4 linked regions of the Homo sapiens genome follow. The protein of the gene in region 4 interacts with the protein of the main gene of each other region in a biochemical or structural test. Each region holds a gene or a part of one and is shown on either strand. Other genes may lie near its edges.

The links.
Region 1: the proteins of ABI1 (region 4) and EPS8 form a complex in vitro, tested with the Homo sapiens proteins (one study listed by BioGRID).
Region 2: the proteins of ABI1 (region 4) and PRPF40A form a complex in vitro, tested with the Homo sapiens proteins (one study listed by BioGRID).
Region 3: of the proteins of ABI1 (region 4) and CDK6, one has a biochemical effect on the other in vitro, tested with the Homo sapiens proteins (one large-scale study listed by IntAct).

The regions. Positions count from the first base shown.
Region 1 is NC_000012.12:15,622,512-15,625,388, reverse strand, and holds part of EPS8 (epidermal growth factor receptor kinase substrate 8), read left to right. Parts: intron 1-981; coding exon 982-1,162; intron 1,163-2,101; coding exon 2,102-2,231; intron 2,232-2,877. UniProt on the Homo sapiens protein: Signaling adapter that controls various cellular protrusions by regulating actin cytoskeleton dynamics and architecture. Depending on its association with other signal transducers, can regulate different processes.
Region 2 is NC_000002.12:152,654,962-152,658,461, reverse strand, and holds part of PRPF40A (pre-mRNA-processing factor 40 homolog A), read left to right. Parts: intron 1-441; coding exon 442-573; intron 574-1,320; coding exon of another isoform or gene 1,321-1,338; exon of another isoform or gene 1,339-2,063; coding exon 2,064-2,156; 3' UTR 2,157-3,500.
Region 3 is NC_000007.14:92,721,574-92,725,073, reverse strand, and holds part of CDK6 (cyclin-dependent kinase 6), read left to right. Parts: intron 1-3,500. UniProt on the Homo sapiens protein: Serine/threonine-protein kinase involved in the control of the cell cycle and differentiation; promotes G1/S transition. Phosphorylates pRB/RB1 and NPM1.
Region 4 is NC_000010.11:26,749,528-26,752,958, reverse strand, and holds part of ABI1 (abl interactor 1), read left to right. Parts: intron 1-1,175; coding exon 1,176-1,361; intron 1,362-3,431. UniProt on the Homo sapiens protein: May act in negative regulation of cell growth and transformation by interacting with nonreceptor tyrosine kinases ABL1 and/or ABL2. May play a role in regulation of EGF-induced Erk pathway activation. Involved in cytoskeletal reorganization and EGFR signaling.

The DNA of each region.
Region 1 (2,877 bases), on a different chromosome or scaffold from region 4:
ATCATAAAATAATAGCATGTTTGCAGGCTGATGAACTGATTCAGTGAAGAAGGAAAATTAATAACAGGATAAATAAGGGAGAAATGACTCAGTATTTGAATAGGCAGAGAACTTGAGGCCTAGTGCATACATGGATAGTTAGCCTTGGGAGCAGGGAAACAGCTCTTATATAACATAATAGGAAGGCAGGCAGAACATATGGGGAAAGTGCTGTTAGGAAGAACTACTAGAGGAACTTACGGAGGTTTTCTTCTAACTATTTTATTCATAAATTAGGAAATGAGATCAGCTCAAGGTGAGGATTGGGGAATAGGGTTAGAAGTTTGTAGAGAGAAAGTAGAATATATTCAATACTTGTCTAAGACAGTGGGCAGTTACATGACCTTAGGCAGGACTTCTTGGCCTTTGAGGCTGGGTTATTCTCTGCTGTAGGAGAGGCTGACATTATAGAATGTTGTGTGCATCCCAGGCTTCTACCCACTGTGTGACAGCAGCAGCCTTTCCCCTTTTTCTCCCTCAATTGTGACGACCAAAAGTGTCTCCAGATATTCCCAAATGTCCTCTGGGGCCAAAACTGTCCCCAGTTGAGAGCCACCAGTCTAAGGAAATGTAGTATAATTGTCAGGAAGCATTAACAGCCAAGTTAAGGTTCATAATCATGAATTTAACATGAGATCATTCAGCATTGTTGTGTTATATTCAGCTGTGCAGGTGCAGGCACAGAATACGCAGAAAGTTAGGTTTAACCAGGATTGGGGTTTTGCCAAAGGAGTACAATGAAGAGACTAGAGAAGAGCCAGGGAGTTATTTTAATAATTGATCATGGCATTTATACCAGGCGAGGATAAAAGTGAGGAAAGATGGTAGGAACACTAGACTGTAGGTCCTACTGGGGTCAAGGATTATAGAGATTGGGGTTCTAGAGAGGGTGATGTAATATTAGGGATTTTCAAAAAGAACCTACTCCCTGTTGGTGTCTAGGAAGGAAATCTCAGATGGAGGAAGTGCAAGATGAACTCATCCACAGACTGACCATTGGTCGGAGTGCCGCTCAGAAGAAATTCCATGTGCCACGGCAGAACGTGCCAGTTATCAATATCACTTACGACTCCACACCAGAGGATGTGAAGACGTGGTTACAGTCAAAGGGATTCAACCCTGTGTGAGTCTCTCTGTGAATACTTTGCAATTCTGTGTGTACAACATGCATTGTTTTCAATTTGCTTAGTTAGATGTCACAGATAACTGTTATAAAACATAAGGGCACAGACTGCATACTTTGTGCCATACTCAAGAACTCACTATAGCTGTTCATAGCTGAAAAAGAACTAAAATAAGCATAAATAATTATTCTGATGCCACCCCATTTTCGAATTGGTAGTATCTGTTCATTATTAGTTCTTTAAGCAAACTATTGGCAGCTTTGAGGCCCAGTAGCTTCTTTTCTCCATCAGATTACTGTGATGTAACCTAGGTAGGACCATGGTCTTAGCTGAACTTCCTAGACCACATAGGACATAGAGCATAAGCTTTCCTCCTGCTGCAGGATATAGTGTCTCTGGCAAATAAAAAATAGTGTTACCTAGCATCAATTATAATCTTAATAGAACTTTTCCTTTAATAAACCCATAGTAAAGGTTCTATTTATCTATCTAAAAGTCTATAAACATTTCATATGTATTTGGCACAATGAACTATTAGAATAATACATATTCAAGGGACCTTGACATATTATAAACTCACCTACCCAGCATGATTGAAAAATGAGATACAATGGTTAGTCAATTGCCAGGTTACTAGAAAGTTATCTATTCCTTCTATAAAACACCAAATCCCAAGAATTGGTATTAAACAATGACCCTAAACCGAATTGGCTCATTTTTGATACTTTGTAATTAATAATCTGTATAGCCTCAGGGTCATCATCATGAAAGAAACTTGTCATTGCCCTAACTATAAAGACTGTAGTGGCATTTAATAAGGGTTCCAGGGTATGGAACGCTTAGAAAAGAGAAGTTACTAGCAGGAACAGATAATTTTCTCCTTTGTTTGTAGGCAATATTTTTAATGCTCAGTTTCTTTTTCCTTTTTTTTTTTTTAGGACTGTCAATAGTCTTGGAGTATTAAATGGTGCACAACTTTTCTCTCTCAATAAGGATGAACTGAGGACAGTCTGCCCTGAAGGGGCGAGAGTCTATAGCCAAATCACTGTACAAAAAGCTGCATTGGAGGTATGACTTGTCAACCTAAGGTGGTGTTTTTCTGCAAATTGAAAGCTCTGGAAACAACTATTTATGTCCATATTGGCCAATTTCCCTTTCTTAACAGAGCTGAATTAAATTTAACTCTGCTTTTGTAAATTTGTCACTGAGATCATCAATGACAGTTTCCAGAAGGTTAATTTGTTATAAATGCTCATATGATGTGAAGCTTGAGCACATACTTTTGGAAACTTGACAAAAAGCATAATGTTCTCATTTTATATGTATTGACTAATTCTATAGGAAATTTAATTTTGACATAACAATGGAAATTAGCTTCTGAGTGAGTAAGAGCCTTAAGAGGCCAGAATCCTTGCCTATTCTTAATATTTTTTTTTTTTTGGAGATTCTAATAACGTATAGGTTATAAGATTGTAAAACCCTGGCTGTGTGTGTTAGGTCTAGTAATACATCTCAATAATCGGGAAAGATACATTAGGTAGAGATCACTGAAAATAGAGAGCCTGGAAAAGTATTTAATCACAATGGTCTGTATGAAAGCAGGAGAGTCATGTTTTCTAGATTGCTTTATACTTAAGCTTCCAATATCCTATTTTAGACTTAAAATGTGCTATATACGGGTAGTAGTTTCCAACTGTTACATCTCACAGCTCTT
Region 2 (3,500 bases), on a different chromosome or scaffold from region 4:
AATAACCATTTAAGCACTAACGTTAAATTTTAAATAATTCCTACTCAGCAATTTCAAGAAAATAATTTTATTAATACAGCTGTCTGCCTTATGTGTTAAAGCTAACAGCAGTATACTATGTACATATATAAACCAATATTATATTGAGTTGGTGAGAAATGTAGTATCTGTCTGTATTTACATAATAGATACTACACATCTATTATGTGGTAGTAAGTCTCATGAGTGGTATTTTATCCTTCAGAATATTATCCTTCCCAAGGGAAAGCTGTCCCCATGAATCTTGGGTAAATTTTACTAAATCCTTGAGGTTAACAATTCACATTTTATTTCATCTCTCTAAGAGCACATAACCTGTTACACATAGATGTTCTTAAATATTACCTATATAACAATGGTATCTTCATCAAAATGCTAACCTGTTATTTTCTATTCATACAGGACTCTCCAGAATCCGATGCTGAGCGAGAGAAGGATAAAAAAGAAAAAGATCGGGAAAGTGAAAAAGACAGAACTAGACAAAGATCAGAATCAAAACACAAATCGCCTAAGAAAAAGACTGGAAAGGATTCTGTAAGTATTTAGAATTGTTTCATGCCTGTATTTTCAAAATGCAAAAATGTATTCTGTGGTTAAACCATGATGGTGTTGAAAGAATAGGCTTTTTTCCAGGTGTGCTACCATTGAAGAAAACAGTGAAAATTCAGTTAAGTACATTTCACACAATATCATAGTTTTTGGTCATGCATGATCCTAGATTTTATTCTCCTAAATTTGATATTTTTTAAATATAGCATTTCATAACTATAGCCTTATTAACTCACTAAGAAAGGATATGGTCACTAAGAAGTGCCACTGGACATTTTTTACCTAATTTTCAAATTTTTTTTTTAAGTGAGAGACTAAATCTGGGATTCTACAGATGTCTACAGTTGTCACTGTTATTAAATCCTTTGTTTCAAAAGGTAGCAATTCCAGTAACTTTTAGAAATACTGATTTGGGGTGGAGGAAGGGCAAATAAATAGGAGAGGAGAATATAAGCCAAAGTTAGTATTTCAATAACAGATTACATAATTAGTCCTTTTCAAATATATGTATATATGAATGACAGAGCCTAATAATGCAAATGCTGTGGGTTTAGCAAGGGTAAATGCCTATGAATCATCACTGGAGAGCATAAACTATGTAGGTAAAACCCTATTAGGGATCTCTGGATATTCTGATTCGTTGGTATAGGGTGGGTTTTTTTTTAGAGCTGAAACAGGTGAGTCTGAGTCACATCGTAAGTGAAGAGTGAATGTTTCCTTTGTACTTTCTAGCAGCTTATGGTGGGTTAAATGAAATCCCTGGAGTGAATGAAAGAGGACGATATGGGAACTATCCACTTTTCAAAGGTTGTGTCTTACGGTGCAGTATTATTTTTGTTTGTTCAGCCTAAATCTTGTCCTGCTCATTAGTCTTGTGTATTTATTTGGCACAGGAATCCATATGCTTAAAGCATACTACTTCTGTTTCTGTGATAATACTTGTGGAACCAGGGGGAAGCTACAAAATTAGCAAGGAATAGGCCAGGTGCAGTGGCTCACACCTGTGATCCTAGCCCTTTGGGAGGCCGAGGTGGGCAGATCACGAGGTCAGGAGTCGAGACCAGCCTGGCCAACATGGCAAAACCCCATCTCTACTAAAAATACAAAAATGAGCCGGGCTTGGTGGCAGGCACCTGTAATCCCAGCTACTCAGGAGGCTGAGGCAGGAGAATTGCTTGAACCCAGGAGGCAGAGGTTGCAGAGAGCCGAGATCGTGCCACTGCACTCCAGCCTGGGTGACAAGAACAAGACTCTGTCTCAACAAAAAAATTAGCAAGGAATGTATTATCTAGGAAATGAATACCTGGCTTCCATTAAATGGAAATATTGCTTCATATTCACACAGTCTTTAAACCCTGTGAAATGTGTTTCTTTGGAAGAGAGTTTATATAGATATTGGATTCTTTTTTCAAAGGCTCAGCCCGTAAACCTCTGAGTACTGATGTCAACTATAATTGTAATCAATGTCTTTTCAGGGTAATTGGGATACTTCTGGCAGCGAACTGAGTGAAGGGGAATTGGAAAAGCGCAGAAGAACCCTTTTGGAGCAACTGGATGATGATCAATAAATTATACCAAATATATGTTTACAGTATGATTTAAAGTCTGATTCAGACCAGGGACTCTATTTTAAGTTCAACTGAAATAACACTGGGTTTTAATTATATCACAGGAAAAAAAAAGTGCATTTAAGTATTGTTATCGTGGACTTTATAAAAGCAAAGGAAATTGAAAGTAACTTTTGATTCTGTATCAAGAATCATATTTTCATACAGTCATAACTGTCTTTCTGTGACCCTTTCACAGGGCACTGTAGGATGGATTAAAGGTGGCAATTTACTGATAACTGCAGATGTCTCTACTTTGTTCTAAAATCTAAGTCATGAGGTGATTTGATTTACTTTATAGAAGCTGGATTTTGAAGATCTAATGAAAAATTTTTTGATAATATAGTAGTACAAAAAAAGCACCAGCAACTGATAAAAATTGCTTTTTTGTGCGCTACCCAACTGGTTAAAGCCAATGTGATCTTTTATGGTGAAACTCCTAAGAAACAGGTGGTTTTGCTGGAAACTTGGTAGACCCTTAATTATAGTGGTGCTAATGAGCACTACTGTAATATAAAGCCACCATTATTTTTTATCAAACATCTGAATACATTTTACAAAGGCTATTGTGAGGGCATTATTTTGAGCATCTATTTTGAGGTGATGTTTAAAAAAACTTTAACATCAAATCAAATTGTAAATTAATTTAAATATATTGCCTTAAGGACCTACTAAAGAATGTGCCACCAGACTTTAAGTGATAGTTGCAATATCCTTGTCTAAAAAAAAAAAAAAAGTTGACTTAAACATTTTCTTTAACAGTTGTCTTTTTTTTCTAAATTCAGTCTTTCTCTTGCTTTTTTTTCCCTGCTATTGAGGAAGTATTTTGCCTTCCCTACTCACTGAGAAGTATTGACTTCGTGGTACACATTCTAAAGCATTTCTGATTTGAATATTTTTGTACATTTTTATCAATTATTAAACCTTCTCTTCTAGTGTGTACTAGTATTTATTTCTACTTAAACTGCTCAGCTCTAAAGAAATTGTATGATCACTTTAAAGGTACTAAATCCCTGAAATTTTGCTTCATCTTACCCACACCGCTAGTTTACTTTCCTTTTTTAATATTTAAGAATATTATAAATCAGTGCATTTGAGGTCCCTAGATTTGTTTTTCACCTATGAATTTTTTACAGACTATTTTAGAGAGGCTGTGGTTTGAAGACAGAATACTCTTTACATGCTAACTTTTGAAGGTTGGTAATGTAATTTATACTATTTTCCTTCAGTGCAGGAGATTTTTTAAGTAAATAAGTAAATTTTAGCACCTATTCTTCGGTATTATCTGTGTTATTCTTTTAATGT
Region 3 (3,500 bases), on a different chromosome or scaffold from region 4:
GAACCCAACGGCCCTGTTTTGGCAAAAAATAACAGTTATGATACCCTGTTTCTTTTTGCCATTCAGCTGCAAAACCATAATAGCTATTGACATTGGTTAGCTTCTATTTCTCCATATAGTTCATTATTTCTCAGATGGATTTTTGTGAAATTCTGCACCCCAAATACAAAAAGAGCAGCCTGGAAATAGGTATTAATACCCTTCTCTTTGAAAGACCTGTTTTGCATACAGTAAATTCATGCCTTACGTACAGTAAATTAAATAAATAATATATAGCAAATTAAGTCTTAAGAAAAAGAATTTTAAAAAAGAAAATATCTTTGTATATTCAAAGAAATAAAAAAAAATAATCCGTATTGTCCATCTTTAGCCTCAAAGTGGTTCTCACATCAGGGACAGCATGGCCCTGTTGTTAAGTAATGATTGGCAACATCTTTGGTCATTCTGCACAGCAAAAAATTGTTTCCCTAAATTTCAGTAATACTACAGCTGATAAGTAGAAATTCAAGAGAGGAGTTAGAAATTCTCTGAGACAGATAACTTGCCTTAGGAAAAAATCCAATTTATAAAAGTGTTCCCCACCCCCTGCCCCCAGTCAAAATAGGGGTGCTACCACCTAGACACGTAAGACCAGTTACTTTCCAAACATTATAGACTTTTCCTAGGGCATCAGAACTTTTGATGCAGAGGATTCCTTGGAAAATGTTGCCATTGTTAGAAGATAAATCCTACTCATTTCCTCTTTGCCCAGCATACACCATTGCTTTAGAGGAGAAATGGCACGAGTTGATGTTTAAAAGATAGGCCTCAGCTTTGAGCACGGTCAAGCAAGCCCTTGTATTCTTATGTAATCACACCAGAAAGGGCTGAGTCTGTGTATTTCCCCAGTGGGAAGGGTGAGGTAGGCTTTGAGTTTCCCTAGGAAGTTGTTGCGCATGTTGTTTTGGGGCCCTGGGGAGAAGCTTGAATAGGCTTTGTGATCCAGAGAGTCATCAGGGGAGTAGATGGAAGGAACTTGTCTCCTTGGGTACGTTAATTGAAGGAAGGATAAGCTGTAACTGAGATGGACGCTTTTATTTTAATCCCCCCAAATGGGCACTAATAACCATAAATAAAAACAGGAAACCCAGTTGGTTTGTGTTTGATTTTTTTTTTTTTTTTTTGCTTATTAAATTTGAGCTTGTGCGTAACATCAATTAACATTCCATTCTTGCTGAAAGTTGATATGTTCAAACAGGAAAATGTAGACAAATTATTTCATAGAGGAAAAGGAGAAAGGCAGTCATAAATACACAATTTTTCAGTATCTAGTTTATACTGCATGCTTTATATTTCCTATAGTGACATAAGTAAAACATGTTAGCAGCTGAGAAGGATTCTAAAACAAAAATCAGACTTTATTGGAAAGAGTGACGGTTGGAATTTAATGGTAATAATAAAGGGTATGTTCCTACAGGGTACTGCATTTTAAAATTTCCCCACTCTTTTGTATTTTTCTATTTAAAGGAAATACCCATTTAATATAGTAATGCGTCGATTTATATACACATGGTGACATAAAAACTTGGAATCATAGTTTTTTAGACTGAACTGGTATGTATTTTTAGTGTCTCTTGAAGAGAAAAAGACTACACTCCTCTTCCTGGAAATACACATTTTTTAGTGGGTTATGTCATACAGGAACTGAGAATCAACTTAATTTGTGGAATGTTAAAGGAATTACAAGTTAACTGATTCAAAACTGACATCTTAAAACTATGAGAAATGCTAGTATTTTACTTACCTTGCAAAGCCTGACTCCAGAGGTACCCTTTCTAGTATCCCCTTCAGAAATTAATTTCTTTTTCCTCTCTGTTTCCAGAGTAATATTTTGGGTTTTTTTGTTTGTTTTTGTTTTTGAGACAGAGTTTCACTCTGTTGCCCAGGCTGGAGGGCAGTGGCCCTATCTCAGCTCACTGCAACCTCTGCCCTCCGAGTTCAAGCGATTCTCGTGTCTCAGCCTCCCAAGTAGCTGGGATTACAGGCCACCCCAGGCTAATTTTTGTATTTTTAGTAGAGGCAGGGTTTTGCCATGTTGGCCAGGCTGGTTTTGAACTCCTGACCTCAAGTAATCCGTCCTCCTCAGCCTCCCAAAGTGCTGGGATTACAGGCATAAGCCACTGTGCCCAGCCTATAATACTGTTTTCTGTCTTGTTTTTAGTTATTTGGGAATTTTATTTATCAGGCCATAAGTTCCTCGAAGGCAGATGCTCATCTTATTCAGCCCTAACACACAGTGCCTTGTTTATTTTGATAGGCACTCAGGAAATATTTTTCAGTGAATAAATTGACAAATGCTGACTTGCAGATATAAGCAGTTGAGTCATAACAGGAATAGAGAAGGAGCTATGTTATACATTTAATGGTCTCATTTGATGTGTGTCAATATTCCTCATAGCTACCTGGTAATATTAAGCTGAAGGACTTACTCCATATACCTTAAAATGGCTGAGTCCATTTTGCACCCTAGTCCTGATTGATTTATTGGCAGCACATATCTGTGTTCAAAATCATGAAAGCTATTAATACATGCTGTAGCTCAATCTCAAGTTAGGAGTGAAAAGTTGACGCAAACCCAAGTTCACAGTCTGTGTATTGTTTTTATCATAATCCTTTCTACTGCCTCAGGAACAAATTACATATATGAATTGAACTTCCTGTCCTGAACAGAAAGCTGTAGAGATAGAGGAATGTAGCATTATTGTAATTTTACTTATTTGAAGACTTTCTTTAGCCCCTTGTGTTTTGTTATTAAAGCAAGTTTTAGAAGAGGAGTCATATTCTTCTAAGATAATTAACATCCTCTAAATGAAAGAATGGGTGAATTACTAGACAACTTTTACTATCTATGTTAATATATATATATTTACATAATAAATGATATTTCTATTTGAACAATTATAAAAGCTTGTATTATTAGCTTCTTTCTGAAAACTTCAAAATGTTCTTACATATAGAACTTTGAGGGAGCAGTTAACAGTATTTATTTTCATTTTAAGTTCATGATCACCTGACAGATCCTGAAGTACTACTTCTCCTTAATTTCTGAGCCAGTATGCTCTATGCCAGTATTCAAGACAAGGCATCTTTTGGATTAATTGAGAAATTAGTTGTTCTAGACAGGTAAGCTTTCCAGGCATCTTAAGGTATAACCCTTTATATTATGATCTTTATTATTTTATTTTTCTAGTGAAAACAAGTTTCTTGTTAAGAAACACGAGTTTCATAAGTAGAATATACTTCATATGTTGGCCTTTGGTAGAAATTAATTTAGGACAGTAGCCTGGACCATAGTTGTAGCTGTAGGTGGTATGCAACATCGGGCTGAATGACTTATCTTGTCCTCATCTGATAAATTGAGGACTAATCAAAGAGTTAAATGTCTTTTGCCTAACTTTGCCAGGCTGCCTCCAACATGACATTCTGGTGTCTTTATGGGGTATTGGGTTCTTGCTGCTCAA
Region 4 (3,431 bases):
ATGTTTGTATTATGAACTTCTCCCCTGCAGGAATTATGTAATTCCTGTATCAATTTGTATGAAAACATTTTCATATGTCTTTTGAACTTTTAAAGAAATTTATTGATCAGAAATTTAAGTTAAGCATTAATTGGGTTCCAGCTTTGAATTCTTTAAATTTTAGGAGCATTTTTACCTGATATTATACTAGTTCATTGAACAGAGCTCTAGCCTGACATTTTCCCATTTCCCTGTTTACACCTTTGACTGTGTAAAGCACACACATATATACTGACCACGACCATCTAGAGTTTGAGGTATGAGTCATTTTTATTGTTTTGTTTACTGTAAGTTCCTTTTTGTTTGTTTTTTTTAATTACATCTTCAACACTTTATGTTTAAATCTTAATTGTTGATGTATTCTTAGAAAATCGAATCTTTAGGATCTAGGCTTTCCCTCATCCCGTGCTTATGTTTTACTAGCAATAATGCAAAATTTTAGCTTGCTTTCTACATTAAAAAACTAATTATGAATATAAACCTTTTTAAAAATACTCAATTAGATTTTCTACTGGTTGGGGATTCTTTTTCCATTTTTTCAACTTGTAAAATGTAAATAACAGAGTAGAAAATCTGCACACAGAAGCAGACCTAATACTACCAACTTTACTTTTCTCTTCATCAAAACAAACAATAATCAACAAAGAAACAAAAATCTGTCCACAGGAGACTGAATTTTTAGGGAACCAAAGCTGTTTCAAGCCAAAATCAGGGGCATGAATGAGCAGAGTGAAGAGTGATCAAACCATTAACGTAATGTTACTCATATCATTACTGCAGTCCAAATGACAAAAGTGACATAGATTTATTTTAGATTGTTAACATTTGTCCCGATCTGAACCTTGGAATAAGGAAACTACTCCTATAATCCTTATAAAAAGAGACATTGTCTCCTAACACCCTGCATTCATTAATTTGTAGTACTTCCAGATACCCTTATTTTTAGCTCATTTTGTTATTTTTAAATGATTCTTGAGTAGCATAAACTTTAACACACCAAGCTTTTATTTCTAATCATTGCATGTTTTATTATAGTGCATGCTGTACTTAAGTTAGAGCTTTCTTAAATTCTGTTAACTTATAAGTTTCCATCTAGACTTATTTTTGATTCAAATCAATCATATGAATCTTTTTAGTTGCTGATAGTCCAACTCCACCGCCACCACCTCCACCAGATGACATTCCCATGTTTGATGACTCTCCACCTCCCCCACCACCACCACCAGTGGATTATGAAGATGAGGAGGCTGCAGTAGTTCAGTATAATGATCCATATGCAGATGGGGATCCTGCTTGGGCCCCCAAGAATTATATTGAGAAAGGTAAGGTACAGTCATTGAGTTGATGTGAAGGAAAATAACCTAATTGTAGAAATTTAGAACTATAAAGAACATCTAATCCAATGTTTCTCAGCCTTTTAAACTGCCTTACCAACCAAGATGATTTACTTAAACCTTACTTCCTAAGTTTTGTATTATTCCCAGTGTACAGGGGGATTCTTTCTTTGTATTTTAAATAAAAGTTGCAGTGTTAGATTTGCTTTCAAACTACATATGCGTTCAGCTGAAGATTAACTTGCTGGACGGCATTTTATAGATGAAACAGCTAAGGCACAAAAATGGAGTTATATGTAATTAGTAAAGATTTTAAAAGTTCTGTCAAGCTCTATTGATTACCTTTCATATCTAAATATGGACGGTCCCTGATTTATGATGGTTCACTTTAGGATCTTTTCAACTTTATGATGGTACAAAAATGATATGCATTCAGTATGCTTCTCAACTTATGATGGAGCTTTGTCTGGATAAACCTGTTATAAGTAAAAAAAATACAAGTTGAAAATGTACTTTCAATTTACAATATTTTCCACTAAACAGTGGGTTTATTGGGACATAACCCCATTGTATGTAAGTGGAGGAGCATCGGTCTTTAAAAATATATTAGTACTATCATGAGAAAAGCCTCAATTAAGGTTTCAATTAGGTGATTTTATAAAACACAAGAGAAATTATCAGGATTGTATTTCATGAAATTATGAACTACTCTAAAGTCTAATTTACCTATAGTACCCGATATTCACTATAATTATCTATTAAGAAATATAGGTGGGGAAGAAACAAATCCTGTTTCTAGTTTTTATTTTTTCATCCAGTTCTGTGCTATTTTAAAATCTGTATTTCTTTTTGCAGAAGTGGGAATCAATTAAAAATAAAATCTGTATTTCTATAGAGTTCTGAAAAATGCTTGTGATTTAGTTGAACACTTTTGGTTGCCTTTGAAATATATTTCCTTCTATTGACTTTACTGGGTTAACGGACTTTAAGCTAGTAGATGTAGCTCTTGAGACCAGCAGCATTCTTTCCTGCCCAAGTTTTGGATATGTGGCAAAAGTAAATTTGTTTTCCTTTTATATTTTTTTATTTTTTGAGATGGAGTCTTGCTCTGTCTCCCAGGCTGGAGTGCAGTGGTGCAATCTCGGCTCACTGCAACTTCCGCCTCCCAGGTTCCAGCAATTCTCCTGCCTCAGCCTCTTAAGTAGCTGGGATTACAGGTGCCCGCCACCACGCCCAGCTAACTTTTGTATTTTTAGTAGAGATGGGGTTTTGCCATGTTGGCCAGGCTGGTCTTGAACTCCTGACCTCAAGTGATCCGCCCATCTCAGCCTCCCTGTGCTGGGATTACCGGCATGAGCCGAGCGTGGCCTTATATTTTTAAACAGTAAGTAATTTACATATTGTTAAGAAAGTCTTGAATATTCTACTTGAGATTCCCATATACCTTCAAATAGAGAGCTGTTGTTACTTACGAGGATGATAAACTTGAGTGACCTTGAATTGTGTTTTTACCCATATTTTCTTACTTGGTGAAGCCAATTAACTGTGAAAATGGGACCATATTTATATAAGTTGACAAATTTGGAATGATATATTGGGTAATATATTTGATAGTAGAGGAGGATTAAAAAGTATATTCCCAAGAACTAGGGGTGAGCACACTTTGTTTGGTATAAAGCCAGATAGTAAATATTTTAAACTTTGCTGGCTATACAGTCTCTGTCACAACTACTCAGTCCTGCTATTGTAGCGTAAAAGCAGACATAGACAATACATGAGTAAGTAGATGTGGCCATATTGCAATAAACCTTTATTTACAAAAATTGCGTGGTTTGGATTTGTCCATGGGCCATTTTATACATTTTGGATTACTTTCTCTTTCCATAGCAGTTTGCAAAGGAAGTGAATATAGGCTAAGCATCCCTATCTGAAAGTCCCAAATTCAAAATGCTCCAAAATCCAAAATGAGTTCCAACATGATGCCGCAAGTGGAAAATTCCACACCTGACCTCACGTGATGGGTCACAATCAAAATGCAGGCACATGACACAGTTTATT